2 separate regions of the Homo sapiens genome follow, and region 1 is linked to region 2. The links come from fine-mapping of genetic effects on gene expression. A gene starts in region 2. The other region holds a variant in brackets. All regions are shown on one strand. Distances are from middle to middle.

Region 1 (8,333 bases), 35 kb before region 2:
AGTGGCGCGATCTCGGCTCACTGCAACCTGTGCCTCCCAGGTTCAAGCTATTCTTCTGCCTCAGCTTCCCAAGTAGCTGGGATTACAGCCACCCGTTACCACACCCAGCTAATTTTTTTGTATTTTTAGTAGAGACAGGATTTCATCATCTTGGCCAGGCTGGTCTCAAACTCCTGACCTCAAGTGATCTGCCTGCCTTGGCCTCCCAAAGTGCTGGGATTACAGGTGTCAGCCACCATGCCCAGCCAAAAAATATATTTGTGTGTGTGTGTGTGTATATACACATATATATTTTAGACAGGGTCTCTTGCTCTGTCACCAAGGCTGGAGTGCAAATCTTGGCTCACTGTAACCTCCGCCCCCTGGGCTCAAGTGATCCTCCCACCTCAACCTCCTGAGTAGCTGGGACCACAGGTGCGCACCACTATGCCCGGCTATTTTTTTGTATTTTTGGTACAGATGGTGTCTTGCCATGTTGCCCAGGCTGGTCTCGAACTCCTGAGTTTGAGCAGTCTGCCTGCCTCAGCCTCCCAAAGTGCTGGGGTTACAGGCATGAGCCACCATGCCCAGCTTCTGACAGCACTTTGTAGGCTCCAAAGTACTTATGTTTCTATTATGTCATTTGATATTTACAACAGTCTTTTGAATCCAGGATTGTGTCCCTTTTTTTTTTTTTTTTTTTTTGAGATGGAGTTTTGCTGTTGTTGCCCAGACTGCAGTACAGTGGTGTGACCTTGGCTCACTGCAACCTCCACCTTCTGTTTTCAAGCGATTCTCCTGCCTCAGTCTCCCGAGTAGCTGAGATTACAGGTGCTCACCACCACGCCCAGCTAATTTTTGTATTTTTAGTAGATATGGGGTTTCACTACGTTGGCCAGGCTGGTCTCGAACTCCTGAACTTGTGATCTGCCCACCTTGGCCTCTCCAAGTGCTGGGATTACAGGCATGAGACACTGCGCCCGGCCTGTGTCCCTTTTTTAGCTAGGAAACAGGATGAGAAGGCAATGGTTTACCAGAGATTACACAGTGAGGCTATGGCAGAGCTGGGCTTAGAATGCAGGTTTAGATGTATTTTTTTTCCTACCTGTCTCTGTGGCTACCTTTCCCTGTTCCCCAGGTCTTCAAAGACACAGCTCCTCTCTTCCACCCCCAGGACTTGCCGGAGCAGCCTTACTTGCAGCCTCCACTCAGCATCTTGGTGATTGAGCGCCGGGCCTTTGGCCACACAGTCCTTGTGGGTTCCCACATTGTCCCCCACATGCTGCGATTCACATTTCGGGGTCATGAGGATCCTCCTGAGGAGGAAGGAGAGATGGAGGAGACAGGGGATATGATGCCCAAGGGACCTCAAGGTTAGGAACCTTCTCCTTCAGGGACACCAGACAGAAGCCCCTCTGATTCCTGGTGGACGTGGCTCCAGAGGGCCCTCCGATGGGGTGTGGAATCTGACTTCTACTTACCCACTCTCCTCATGCTGCCATTTTCCCCCTCCCAGGACAGAAGTCCCTGGATCCCTTCTTGGCTGAAGCGGGTATATCCAGACAGCTCCTGAAGGTGATGGGGTAGAGGAGATAGATGGTGAAGGGGCTGGCAGTACTTGGGATGGTGCTGGGTTAGAGGGACAAAGTCTGCTCTTCCTCAGCCTCCTCTGAAGAAGCTCCCACTAGGAGGCCTCCTAAATCAAGGCCCTGGGCTGGAGGAAGACATCCCAGATCCAGAGGAGCTCGACTGGGGGTCCAAGTACTATGCGTCGCTGCAGGAGCTCCAGGGGCAGGTGGGGGCAGAGAAGGGTCCCAGGGAGGGGGCTGGGGTGTAAATGGTAAAAAGAATGATATCTTAGCTAGGCATGGCGGCGCGCACCTGTAGTCCCAGCTACTCAGGAGGCTGACGCAGGAGAATCACTTGAACCCAGAGGCAGAGGCTCCTGTGAGCTGAGATCATGCCATTGCACAACAGCCTGGGTGACAGTGAGACTCCGTCTCAAAAAACAAACAAAAAACAAGAATGATCTCATTGAAGGTGGAGCTCTACAGTTTTTCAGAGCTCTTCATTATAGTCCTCTTTTCTTCACAATTCTAGAAGCTGGGGATTATTAACTCCATTATCTAGAGCTGTGTTGTCCAAAAGACATAACACGAGCCACATACGTAATTTTAACTTTTGTAGTAGCCACATTAAAGTAGAAGGGGCCAGGCGCGGTGGCTCACGCCTGTAATCCCAGCGCTTTGGGAGGCCAAGGCGGGTGGATCACGAGGTCAGGAGATTGAGACCATCCTGGCTAACATGGTGAAACCCCGTCTCTACTAAAAATACAAAAAATATTAGCGGGGCATGGTGGCGGGTGCCTGTAGTCCCACCTACTCAGGAGGCTGAGGCAGGAGAATGGTGTGAACCTGGGAGGCGGACCTTGCAGTGAGCCGAGATTGCGCCACTGCACTCCAGCCTGGGCGACAGAACGAGACTCCCTCTCAAAAAAAAAAAAAAAAAAAAAAGTAAAACGAAACAGGTGAAATTAATTTTAGTAATATATTCAAAATACCATTTCAAGGCTGGGCACAGTGGCTCATGCCTGTAATCCCAGCACTTTGGGAGGCTGAGGCAGGCAGATCACTTGAGGTCAGGAGTTCGAGACCAGCCTGGCCAACATGGCGAAACCCCGTCTCTACTAAAAATACAAAAATTAGCCGGGCGTGGTGCTGGGCACCTGTTAATCCCAGCTATTCTGGAGGCTGAGGCAGGAGAATCGCTTGAACCTGGGAGGTGGAGGTTACAGTGAGCCGAGACTGTGCTCCAGCCTGGGTGACAGAGTGAAACTCTGTCTCTCAAAAAAAAAAAAAAAAAAAAAAAAAACTTCAACAAGTAATCATAAAATTTCTGAGATATTTTACATTCTTGTTTTTTGTACTAAGTATTTAAAAATCCGGTTTTTATTTTATACTTATCGCACATCTTTTTCTTTCTTTTCTTTTTATTTTTAGAGATGGGGTCTTTATCTGTTATCCAGACTGGTCTCAAACTCCTGGGTTCAAGTGATCTTCCCACCTCAGCCTCCCCAGTAGCTAGGACCATAAGTACATACCACTACACTCAGCTAATTACAAACTTTTTTTTTCCTGGGTGTGGTGTTTCATGCCGGTAATCCCAGCACTTTGGGAGTCTGAGGTGGGAGGATCACTCGAAGCCAGGAGTTTGAGAACAGTCTGGGGAACATGGTGAGACACCATCTCTACTAAAAATGAAAACAAGTAGCTGTGCATGGTGGTACACGCCGGTGGCCCCAGCGACTCAAGAGGTTGAGGTGGGAGGATCACTTGAGCCTCGGAGGTTGAGGCTACAGTGAGCCATGTTCACACCAATACACTCCAACCTGGGCTACACAGCAAGAGTCTGTCTCAAAAATAAATAAATAAAAATTAAAAAGCATTTATTTCATAGAGACAGGTTCTCACTGTGTTGTTCAGCCTGATCTCGAACTCCTGGCCTCAAGTAGTCACCTCAGTCTCCCAAAGTGTTGGGATTCCAGGCATGAGCCACCAAGCCTGGCCACTTACAGCACATTGCAATTCAGACTAGCCACGTTTTGACTGCTCAGTAGCCACGTGTGGCTGGTGGTGACTGCCCTAGACAGGGCAGGCTGGATGATAAATTGGAGCTTTAAAAATGCAAGTGGCATACACAGTGGGAACTTGAGTGAAGGTTTCCCAACTCTCCTGGAAAAGGGGGTAGACTAAGGGGTTGAAGGGGATGGGGAAGAATCTCTGGATCTGCTCTTTAATTTCAGCACAACTTTGATGAAGATGAAATGGATGATCCTGGAGATTCAGGTAACAGATTGGGCTTTTTGCTCTGGTTCCATCTGCCCATCCCCTACCCACCCAGATATTTCTGACTGGGGCATTTTTGCTGTTTCCAGATGGGGTCAACCTCATTTCTATGGTTGGGGAGATCCAAGACCAGGGTGAGGCTGAAGTCAAAGGCACTGTGTCCCCAAAAAAAGCAGTTGCCACCCTGAAGGTGACTGGGTACTGGGAAGAGGAAAGTCTCCTTTGGATTCTGGACATCGGGCTGTTGCTGAAGTCCTTGCCTTTTAGATCTACAACAGGTCCCTGAAGGAAGAATTTAACCACTTTGAAGACTGGCTGAATGTGTTTCCTCTGTACCGAGGGCAAGGGGGCCAGGATGGAGGTGGAGAAGAGGAAGGATCTGGACACCTTGTGGGCAAGTTCAAGGTACATTTGGGGAAGGAAAGCGGAACCAGGGAGCCCAGGTGGGGATTCAGGAGGACAATTATCTTACCAGAGCTTTTTCTGTCTCCCCCCAACTCAGGGCTCCTTCCTCATTTACCCTGAATCAGAGGCAGTGTTGTTCTCTGAGCCCCAGATCTCCCGGGGGATCCCACAGAACCGGCCCATCAAGCTCCTGGTCAGAGTGTATGTTGTAAAGGTGAGTCTCCATAGCCCTGGCACGCCTCCAACTATAGCTAAGGTAATGTACACAAAACCTACAGAAGGAAGGCTTTGGGAGGAACCTCGTGATCACAGAGTTCAAGTTCTTCATTTTTCAGGTGAGAAATTGAATCCACAAATTTAGGAGATCCCCTAGGGTTATAAAGCATGTTCATGGCAGAACCAGAATTGGGAGTTGGTCTCCTGACCCCTGTTTGTAGTTCTAGTCCTGTAGAATGGCACGTATAATTCTAGGATGAGAACAGGGCTGAATCTCAGGCTTCAGAAGGCTTGTTACCA[A/C]ATACCTTTGTCCAACTTTGTCCATTGGTGCAGTTTTCATACTGAGTTCAGCAGGGCCTTGAAGTATTCTTAAAGATATCTCGGAGCCGGTTGTGGTGGCTCACGCCTGTAATCCCAGCACTTTGGGAGGCCGAGGCGGGTGGATCACGAGGTCAAGAGATCGAGACCATTCTGGCCAACCAACATGGTGAAACCCCATCTCTACTAAAAATACAAAAATTAGCTGAGCATAGTGGCTCATGCTTGTAGTCCCAGCTACTCGGGAGGCTGAGGCAGGAGAATCACTTGAACCCAGGAGGCGGAGGTTGCAGTAAGCCAAGATTGCGCCACCACGCTCCAGCCTGGGTGACGGAGCGAGACTCCGTCTCCAAAAAAAAAAAACAAAAAAGAAAGTGAGTGGCAAAGGGATGGAACGAAAGGGGGAAAGGGGTCAGGGTTGCGAGAATGAGGACAAAAATGACACTTCTCAAAGTAGATCTTTTTGTATACCTCTGACTCTTAGAACTGTAGCAGTGTTTCACATGCCCCTACAATAGACAGAAAATTAAAAGCAATCACAGTGTTGAGGAAACCTAACATGGAATACAAACACTAACAAATGACCCTCACTGTATTACAAATGAACAATATAACCACACTGAAGGAAGTGAAGAACAAAACCAAGTAACTCTGGAAAACAGTAATTTGACAGGGCTCTATAAAACTCTAGATGGGCCTGGTGCAGTGGCTCACACCTGTAATCCCAGCACTTTGGGAGGCCAAGACAGGAGGATCACTTTAGCCCAGGAGGTCAAGACCAGCCTGGGCAACAAAGTGAGACTCCATCTCTACAAAAGATTAAAAAACTAGCTGGATGTGGCTGGGTGTGGTGGCTCATGCCTGTAATGCCAGCACTTCAGGAGGCTGAGGCAGGTGGATTGCCTAAATTGGGTGGATCGCCTGAGGGTCAGGAGTTTGAGACCAGCCTGGCTAACAGGGTGAACCCCGTCTCTACTAAAAATACAAAAATTAGCTGGGCATGGTGGCACGTGCCTGTAGTCCCAGCTGTTTTGGAGGCTGAGGCAGGAGCATTGTTTGAAGCTGGGAGGAGGAGGTTGCAGTGAGCCAAGCTTGTGCCACTGCACTCCAGCTTGGATGACAGGGAGAGAGCTTGTCACAAAAAACAAAAACAAAACAAAAAACCAACTAAACTAAAGATAAAGAGAGCTGAACATAAATGCTGTCATCTAGTTAGAAGTATGTGTTAGCAATTCTGAAACTATATTATGTGTATACTGGTATACATGAATAAGTAAACTATATTGTAGATAATGAGAACCAGGTTTCTTACTGTTGGAGAAAGAAGTTACAGATAAGGAAAGGGGATTAAATGAATGCTGTGGTATTAGATCAGAAACAGAAGTATCTGTATAAACTCATGTTTTTAAATATACACAGATGGAAAGATACAGAAATATAGATATGTGTATATATATGTGGATTATGTTATTCATGTTTGCTATCTCCGTTTGCTGAGAAGGCCTAGAATCAACAACATCCTAGTAGCAGTGAGCAAACCAGGTGCCCAGATTTTGGTTTCTAAAAACCATTATTTAATAAAAGGATTAAGGACTCCTTGGAGTTGATTCCAGGACTAGGACTGGGAAAATATAAGTCAAATCTGGAGCATCTTGTGGGGCAGGAGTAAGGAAGTGCTCAAAAAAGGATGGGGGCTTGATGAAAGAATGAACACAGGAGCCAACCTGAAGGAGCTCCTAATGGTTAAGACTTGAAAAATTGGGGCAACAGAATAAGTAATGAGGCTGGGCACAGTGGCTTTCGCCTGTAATCCCAGCACTTTGGGAGTCTGAGGCCAGGGGTCCAAGACCAGCCTGGCCAACATGGTGAAACCCTGTCTCTATTAAAAATACAAAAATTAGCTGGGTGTGGTGTCAGGCACCTGTAATCCCAGCTACTTGGGAGGCTGAGGCAGGAGAATTGCTTGAACCTGGGAGGTGGGGGTTGCAGTGAGCCAGGATTGTGCCATTGCACTCCAGCCTGGGCAACAAGAGCAAGATTCTGTCTCAACAACAACAAAAGTAATGATAGTATTGGATATTCAGACTTTCTTTTTTCTTCTTTTCTCTCTCTCTAGCTCTTTTTTTTTTTTTTTTTTGAGACGGAGTTTCGCTCTTGTTGCCCAGGTTGGAGTGCAATGGCACTGTCTTGGCTCACTGCAACCTCTGCCTCCCAGGTTCAAAGGATTCTCCTGCCTCAGCTTCCCAAGCAGCTGGGACTGCAGGCATGTGCCACCATATCCTGCTAATTTTGTATTTTTAGTAGAGACAGAGTTTCTCCATGTTGGTCAGGCTGGTCTCAAACTCCCGACCTCCGGTGATCCGCCCGCCTGGGCCTCCCAAAGTGCTGGGATTACAGGTGTGAGCCACCGTGCCCAGCCTGCCTTCTTTTTTTGTTGTTGTTTTGAGATGGAGTCTTACTCTTGTTGCCCAGGCTGGACTGCAATGGCACAATCTCAGCTCACTGCAACCTCCACCTCCTGGGTTCAAGTGATTCTCCCACCTCAGCCTCCGGAATAGCTGGGACTATAGGCACACACCACCATGCCTGGCTAATTTTAGAGATGGGGTTTCATTCACCATGTTGGCCAGGCTGGTCTCAAAGTTTTGACCTCAAATGATCCGCCTGCCTCATTACAGGCGTGAGCCACTGCACCCAGCTCTCTGTCTCCTCCTAATGCTCCCATTATACGTGTGTTGGTGTACTTAATGGTGTTCCACATTTGTTTGAGGCTCTATTTCATTTTTCTTTTTTCTCTTTTCTCTCTGTTCTTCAGCTTACATAATCGCTTTTGATCTAGCTTCAAGTTTGCCAATTCTTTCTTCTGTTCAAATCTACTATTGAGCCTCTCTAGTGAATTTTAAATTTTAGTTATTGTACTTTTCAACTCAAGAATTTTCATTTGGTTCTTTTTAAAAAAATGTATGGCTTGGCTGGGTGTGGTGGCTCATGCCTGTAATCCCAGCACTTTGGGGGGCTGAGGCGGGTGGATCATGAGGTCAGGAGACGAGACCATCCTGGCTAACACGGTGAAACCCCGTCTCTACTAAAAAAAATACAAAAAATTAGCTGGGTGTGGTGGCATGTGCCAGTAGTCCCAGCTACTTGGGAGGCTGAGGCAGGAGAATTGCTTGAACCTGGGAGGCAGAAGTTGCAGTGAGCTGAGATCACACCACTGCACTCGAGCCTGGGTGACAGAGTGAGATTCTCTCAAAAACAAAAAAAAAAATGTATATCTCTTTATTGATATTCTCTATTTGATGCAACGTTATCATCATACCTTCCTTTACTTCTCTAATCAAGCTTGCCTTCAGTTCTGTGAACATGTTTACACTGGCTACTTTGAAATACTTTCCAGTCGGCCGGGCGCAGTGGCTCACGCCTGTAATCCCAGCACTTGGGAGGCCGAGGCAGGCAGATCATGAGGTCAGGAGATCGAGACCATCCTGGCTAACATGGTGAAACCCCATCTCTACTAAAAATACAAAAAATTAGCTGGGCATGCTGGTGGGCACTGTAGTCCCAGCTACT
Region 2 (8,332 bases):
CTCACTTGCAAGATCCAAGTGGGGGAAGCCAGTTGCCGTGATACAAGGACACACAAGCAACCCTACTGAGAGGCCCATGTGGTGAGGCACTGAGGCATCCTGCCAACAGCCCTATGAGTGAGCCCTTTAAAAGCAGATCCCCTGCTGGGCGTGGTGGCCCATGCCTGTAATCCCAACACTTTGGGAGGCCAAGGCGGGTGGATCACCTGAGGTCAGGAGTTTGAGACCAGCCTGGCCACGATGGTGAAACCCTGTCTCTACCAAAAATACAAAAAGTAGCCGGGTGTGGGGGCAGGCGCCTGTAACCCCAGCTACTCAGAAGGCTGAGGCAGGTGAATCACTTGAAGCCGGGAGGCAGAGGTTGCAGTGAGCTGAAATCGCACCATTGCACTCCAGCCTGGGTGACAGAGCGTGACTCAAAAAAAAAAAAAAAAAAAAAGTAGATCCCCGCGTGGCACCAGCCCTTCTGCCACAGCTGCCATTGGAGAGCAGCAGCCATGGCTCTGTGCTACCCACTATGGCCGTGTGCCTTGACAAGGGCCACAAGATGACCAAGAACATGAGCAAGCCCAGGCACAGCTGCCGCCGCGGGCGCCTGACCAAACACCAAATTCATGTGGGACATGATCCGAGAGGTGTGTGGTTTCGCCCCGTATGAGCGGCACGCCATGGTGTTACTCAAGGTCTCCAAGGACAAACGGGCCCTCAAGTTCATCAAGAAAAGAGTGGGGACGCACATCCGCACTAAGAGGAGGCAGGAGGAGCTGAGCAATGTCCCAGCCATCATGAGGAAAGCTGATGCCAAGAAAGACTGAGCCCCCTGTCCTGCCCTCTCTCTGAAATAAAGAACACCTTGACAGAAAAAAAATAAATTTAAACAACAAATAAGTAGGCCAGGCGCAGTGGCTCATGCCTGTAATCCCAGCACTTTGGAAGGCTGAGGCGGGTGGATCACAAGGTCAAGAGATCAAGACCATCTGGCCCAACAAGGTGCAACCCCGTCTCTACTAAAAATACAAAAAATTAGCTGGGCATGGTGGCACAGGCCTGTAATCCCAGCTACTCGGGAGGTTGAGGCAGGAGAATCACTTGAACCTGGGAGGCGGAGGTTGCAGTGAGCCAAGATCGCGCCACTGCACTCCAGCCTGGGCGACAAAGTGAGACTCTGTCTCAAGATAGACAGATAGATAGATAGATAGATAGATAGATAGATAGATAGATAGATAGATAGTAGATTCTTCAGTGCCCCATCAATCCTTAGATGACTGCAACCTCGTGAGATACCCTAATCCCGAATCACCCAAACAAGCCACTCCTAAATTCCTGACCCAGGGAAACTGAAAAAACACATTTTTATTGTATCAAACTACTAACTTTTGGAGTACTTTGTTACACAGCAGTGGATATCCAATAGCCACTCCTCCCTCCCACCAAAAAAACCTTCTCCTCCAGTCATCTCCATCTCAAGTCATTCATTTGCTCAGGCTGAAAGCGTTGGAATCAACAACCATGACTTTGCTCTCCTCCACTCCACATCCAGTCCTATAGCAAATTATGTTGGTTCCACTGGTGTCCTGCATTAATCTGCTGAAACAACGAATGATAAAACTCCCCACCAGAGTAATCTCTAAGGTGTTAGAAATCCCAGCTTTGAGGACAGTTTGCTGTGGTGGGAAACTGAGTTAACGAAGGGAATTGGGAAGCCACCAAGATAAAGGAAAGGAAGGTAAAAGTGGGTACCCACTCTGTACCAGGCATTTTACACATATGACTTCATTTGATCTTACAATTCCATGTGGTTGGTACTACTGTTTTATTACCACTTTCTAGCTGAAGCTCACAGACTGCAGGAGACAAAGCTAGATGTGAACCCAGGCAATCTGACTTGAGAACCTAAATTCTCATTAAACCACCTGCATTCCAAAGGGGAAGAGCATTAAGGGCTGAATTAAGCCAATGGGCTGGGAAAGCAAACACTCAAAGAAGCCTGGGTCCATCTAGACAGTTCTACCAAGGCAAGAGCACATAAGACCTATCTTCAAACCTCTGGTATTCAAACTACCATCTGCAGGTATTGAGGACCTCTGAGAATAATAGCCAGGTAGATTACCTGACTCGATATGTATAGAGGATTTTAGCTCACTCTGACTCTTACTAGCTGGGGGACCCTAGGCAAGTCACTTGACTTCTCTAGCTCTTAGTTGTTTAATGTATCACTATGCCTGCCACAGTTCACTTGCTAGCAGATAGGCTTGGGTACATCCAGCTTTGGGATCTGAGACCCGGCCCCCTCCCCTGGTTACCATGCCGCTCAGCCTCTGAGCTCACGGGGATGCCATCTTTATCTAGTCGTTGCTTGAACAGGTTGTGTTCCACATCCAGCTGCTGTTCTCCGGCCACATCCATGGCATCAATACTCAGATCTGGAAGCAGGAAAATCAGGCTAAGGTACTGGGACCCTAGGGACAAGGGGATGTGGGTTTTGGAGGGGAAGGGGATACTGGGCCTGTCTTGGGGCAGAACGGGATGAGGAGAAGGAGGTTGTCCTGGGGTCCAGTCCAGAACCTAAGGGTGGAGGTGTGAATCTGGCAGCCCACATGAGAACCCTGGGTCTCTCCAGTCCCACCCATGGTGAGGTACTCACAGGCACAAGGCATGTGCGGAAAAAGTACATCGATGTTGATCTTCAGTTTATCTCCCCGCGACTTGTCCACGTAGAGCTCAGGATGCACCTGGGGCAGCGCTACCTCAGTAAGACTTAGCCCCAAACCTCTCCTTCCCCACTCCCACCCCTAAAGGTCCTACTCCTAGAATGCCAAGCCCCGCCCACGCACTAAGCCCCGCCCCTTACCTCCGTGGTGAGGTAATACTGCAGCTCGGACAGGAACAGTAGCAGCATGAGAAGGCCACTGACAATGGTCACTGCAGGACAAGGGGCGAGGGTCAGAATGGCCTCGAATCCGCTCCCTCAGACACCGGCAGGCCAGTCAGAGTCCAGGAGCCCGGGCTAAGCTCTAGGACGCCCCCCTCCACGCGACCCCGGCCCCGCTGCGGCCTACCGGTGGCGCCCCCGCAGGTCTTGACCCGGAAGTCCTCCAAAGTCTTGGGGTAGGCATCGAACTGCTTCAGCTTCCCCAGCGCCTCCATGGGGACCGGCCGGAAAGGGGACGCCAGCCGGCCCGCCCCTACAGACTCCCTCTTCCGGCCTGGAGCCACGCCCCCCTCTTTTTCCTCACGCAGGCGCAGCAAACCGCACGCTTGGCCCCACCTTTAGCCGCGTTCTCTTACAGGCGGCCCCGCCCAACGATGCTGCCACGCCCCCTTGCGCGGGCAATTGGGTCTGGAAGCTACTGCCCCGGCCTCCGCTGTCCGGGGCGGGATTTTGAGGACTGGGGTGCGAGGAGTTCTCTGCGGGGTTAGAAACGCTAATAGCACCGTTCGTGTGCCTTGTGCTCGGAACTGCACCAGGTGTTTAAGACTCTTGGAACATCTTGGAATATCCTGGAACAGTGGTTTTTCGAGTGTACCGGACCGGCCGCATCATTATCAACTGATTACCTATTAGAAATGCAAATAATTGATTCCCACCTACTGAAGCCGAAACGCTAGGAATGGCATCGGATGATTCTGATGTAAAGTAAGGGTGTCCGCCCTGAAAGCAGGTGTGACTTATCTCCGTTTTCCAAAGAGCAAACTGTGACCTGGAGAAGTTAAATAACTTGCCCAAGATCACAGCCAATTAATAGCAGGACCTGCTTCCAGCCCAGTTCTTCTGGACCTCAAAGTACTCTGGGAATCAGGGTCTTTTGGGTTGATTTTACCTAAACAGCGTCCCAGTGCTTCTCCTGAGCGCTGCTTTCTGAATATTACCCTAAATTGCTCTCCAGGCCCTGGGATCCTCACGGACACGCTCTATCCCTCCAGGTTTAGACTCAAGTGATATGGAGCTTAAGCTCTCCCTGACACTTCCCATTGCAGCCCAGTGTCTCTAGAGGGACAGCTCCCACAGTAATGCAGCTGCAATGAGTAAGATATAAAAGCTCATAGGCTTTCATACAGGAATTCCACTTTAGGAAGTAAAAGCACCATGTCAAGGTTAATAGAAAAATTTTGAAAAAGAAAAAATATGTAAGCAGCTATCCAAGGTTAACAGAAAAAAATTTTAATATAAGGATAAAAGTACCATGATCTGGGTGGTTGTTACACCTTAAGATATTGAATCTGTCTCTTAAAGATTTTAAGTGCACCACATCATAAAGATGTATGCATGAGATTGTTCAATGGCAAAAATCTGGAACCAGCCAGAATGCCCACTGATACATTAAATAAATTGAATAAATCACGATACACCCATTCTATGGAATATTAGGCCACTTTTCAAAAGAATGAGGTAGATTTACTCCTTTAGGTATACTAAGAATGTATTTTTAAGGGGGAAAAGATGCAAAGTAATGTGCATTCCATCATTCCATTTTTTAATTAAAAATTGGGCTGGGCACAATGGCTCACACCTGTAATCACAGCACTTTGGGAGACCGAGGAGGATCACATGAGGCCAGGAGTCTAAGACCAGCCTGGGCAACACAGCAAGACCCCACTCTACAAAAACTTTAAAAACTACATCTGTAACCCTAGCACTTCAGGAGGCCGAGCCAGGAAGCATCACTTGAGTTCAGGAGTTTGAGACCAGCCTGGTCAACATGGTGAAACCCCATCTCTACTAAAAATACAAAAATTAGCCAGGCGTGGTAGTGTGCTCCTGTAAACCCAGCTACTTGTGAGTCCGAGGCAGGAGAATCGCTTGAACCTGGGAGGCGGAGGTTGCAGTGAGCCGAGATCATGCCATTGCATTCCAGCCTGGGCGACAGAGTGAGATTCTGTCTCCAAAAATAAAAATAAAAATAAAAAAATTAGCCAGGTGTGGTGGCATGCGTCTATAGTCTCAGCTACCTGGGAGGCTGGGGTTGAGCCCAGGAGAGTTTGAAACTGCAGTTGTTACCAGGTTACCTGCAGTTGTTACCAGCATAGAGTTGTCCAGGTTCTTGGCGTGTTGAACAAAACACATAAAGTAACAGAAGGGCAACGAAAGACAAACAGCAACAGAAGAACGGAATAACAAAAGCATAGATTTATTGAAGACGATTCATAGCGGCAGCTGGTTAGAGCAAGCTGCTCAAGAGCCTCCTCAATCAGGGTTTGTATTAAGCTAAAGGGACCTGGCAACACCCCTAGGTGCCCTTTAGAAGCCTCCAGTTGGCTACACCTATGAAGGATTGGCCTGCGACCAAATCAGAGGCTGAAGTGGAGACTTGGCCCACAGCCAATCAGAGGCTGAAGTGGAGATTTGGCCCCACGGTCAATCGGAGGCGGAAGTGGAAACTTCTGTCTCGTTATCATAGGATTGAAGATGTGGCCTGTATGCTGCCTAGAACTGGCTGCACCCCTTCATTTGCTTATGTCTTAACCCCCGGTTACCCTGATTCCCTGTTCTCCTGCCTCATAGTGAGCTGTGATTACACCACTGCACTACAGCCTGGGCGACAGAGCGAGTCTCTCTCTCTCTCTTTGTGTGTGTGCATATATATATATATAATATATATAAACTGTTATATATATTATATATATAAACTTATATATATTATATATATAAACTGTTATATATTTTATATATATAAACTGTTATATATATTATATATATAAACTGTTATATATATTATATATATAAACTGTTATATATATTATATATATAAACTGTTATATATATTATATATAAACATATATATAAACTTATATATATTATATATAAACTTATATATATTATATATATAAACTGTTATATATAAACTTATATATATTATATATAAACTGTTATATATAAACTGTTATATATAATATATAAACTTATATATTATATATATAAACTGTTATATATATTATATATATAAACTGTTATATATATTATATATATAAACTGTTATATATATATATATAAACTGTTATATATATTATATATATAAACTGTTATATATATATATAAACTGTTATATATATTATATATGTAGTTATATATAAATTGTTATATATGTAAAACATAGGCCGGGCGCTGTGGCTCACGCCTGTAATCCCAGCACTTTGGGAGGCCGAGGCGGGCGGATCACGAGGTCAGGAGATCAAGACCATCCTGGCTAACATGGTGAAACCCTGTCTCTACTAAAAATACAAAAAATTAGCCGGGCGTAGTAGCGGGCGCCTGTAGTCCCAGCTACTCGGGAGGCTGAGGCAGGAGAATGGCGTGAACCTGGGAGGTGGAGCTTGCAGTGAGCCGAGATTGCCCCACTGCACTCCAGCCTGGGCGACAGAGCCACACTCCGTCTCAAAAAAAAAACAAAAAAAAAAACCTAAATAAAAAAAAAATCTATCTATATATAAAAATCTTAATCTTATATGGGGGAATATGTATTTGTATAATCATGAGAAAAGATTTGGAAGGACTCATGCTACAACTTTGGGGACAACTGGAGGAGGACTTTTCACGGAAGCCAAAGTTTTTGGGTCTCCCTCAGCTAACAGGGTGGCAGAGGACACCTGGGATCTCCCTCTATTATCTGGGCTTCAGATTCCTGAGAGCACCAAGAATTCTATCAGAAATAGGTAATAAGGAATCTGCTGATGGAATTAAGTCTAAAGCTCTGCTACCCTAAGTGGGATCCTTGAACCAGAAACATTGGCCTTATCTGGGAACCTGTTAGAAATGCAGAATCCCAGTCCCCACCCCAAACCTGCAGAATCAGAATCTGCATTCTAACAAGACTCTCCAGATAATTAGCATGCACATTAAAGTGTGAGAAGTACTTTCCTGAAAGGTTCCTTGTTTTATTGCCCACATAGGACCAAAACCAGCAGCACAGGAAAAAAAAAATCTGAGTGCCTCAAATATTGCACTAAGCCCAGGCGCGGTGGCCCATGCCTGTAATCTCAGCACTTTGGGAGGCCAAGGCAGGTGGATCACTTGAGGTCAGGAGTTTCAGACCAACCTGGCCAACATAGCAAAATCCCATCTCTACCAAAAAATACAAAAACTTAGCTGGGTGTGGTGGCGGGTGCCTCTAATCCCAGCTATTCGGGAGGCTGAGGTGGGAGAATCGCTTGAACCCAGGGGTGGGGGGCAGAGGTTGCAGTGACCCGAGACCATGCCACTGCATTCCAGCCTGGGTGACAGAGTGAGACCCTGTATCAAAAATACTTTAAAAAAAAGGCCAGGGGTGGTGGCTCACGCCTGTAATCCCAACACTAGGGGAGGCCGAGGAGGCCAGATTACCTGAGGTCAAGAGTTCAAGACCAGCCTGGCCAACATGGTGAAACCCCATCTCTACTAAAAATACAAAAAATTAGCCGGGCGTGGTGGCGCATGCCTGTAATCCTAGCTACTTGGGAGGCTAAGACAGGAGAATCGCTTGAACCCAGGAGGTGGAGGTTGCAGTGAGCCAAGATCATGCCATTGCACTCCAGCCTGGAGGACAAGAGTGAAACTTTGTCTGAAAATTAAATAAAATAAATAAAATAAAATAAAAATTATTAAAAAATAAAAATTAAAAATTGCACTAAATTCAGATTTTAAAATGTAATATCCATGTATGCAAGCAACACTCAAATATACACACACACACACTGTGTCCCTGCCCTGTGTTGAGTCCTGGGAAGAGAGAGTTGAATTAGAACAGTTCTTGCCTTCAAGAATGTTACAGTCCTGGCTGGGCACGGTAGCTCACGCCTGTAATCCCAGCACTTTGGGAGGCCGAGGAGGGTGGATCACCAGGTCAGAAGTTTGAGACCAGCCAGGCCAGAAGACCAGCCTGGCCAATATGGTGAAACCCCGTCTCTACTAAAAATACAAAAATTAGCTGGGCATGGTGGTGGGCGCCTGTAATCCCAGCTACTCAGGAGGCTGAGGCAGGAGAATTGCTCGAACCCGGGAGGCAGAGGTTGCAGTGAGCCGAAGATTGTGCCATTGCACTCCAGCCTGGGCAACAGAGCGAGACTCCGAATCAAAAAAAAAAAAAGAAAGAAAGAAAGTTACAGTCCTAATTATGGATATTAATATATCCCTTAATAAAATAATAAAAATAAAAATAATAGCTAATAATAATAATTTTTTAAAATAGCTAGCATTGGCCGGGTGCAGTGGCTCACACCTGTAATTCCAGCACTTTGGGTGTCAGAAGTGGGAGGATCACAAGGTCAGGAGTTTGAGACCAGCCTGACCAGCATAGTGAAACCTTGTCTATACTAAAAATACAAAAAATTAGCCAGGCATGGTGGCGTGCACTTGTAG

Evidence for each region.
Region 1: its variant is fine-mapped to the expression of ERGIC3 in blood mononuclear cells (TOPMed, PIP above 0.99).

Annotation. Positions count from the first base shown.
Region 1 is chr20:35,572,277-35,580,609 of GRCh38, reverse strand. It overlaps the pseudogene FER1L4. Among named protein-coding and RNA genes, the nearest start is that of ERGIC3, 34 kb to the right of the region's middle. RefSeq lists a silencer at 3,442-3,604. The variant A/C (reference allele first, on the strand shown) is at 4,746.
Region 2 is chr20:35,536,913-35,545,244 of GRCh38, reverse strand. ERGIC3 (ERGIC and golgi 3) reads right to left here and starts at 3,167. Exons shown (of 13, transcript NM_015966.3): 1 at 3,060-3,167; 2 at 2,852-2,922; 3 at 2,645-2,732; 4 at 2,304-2,423. The coding sequence starts at 3,147. It also overlaps the pseudogene RPL36P4. RefSeq lists an enhancer at 3,406-3,495.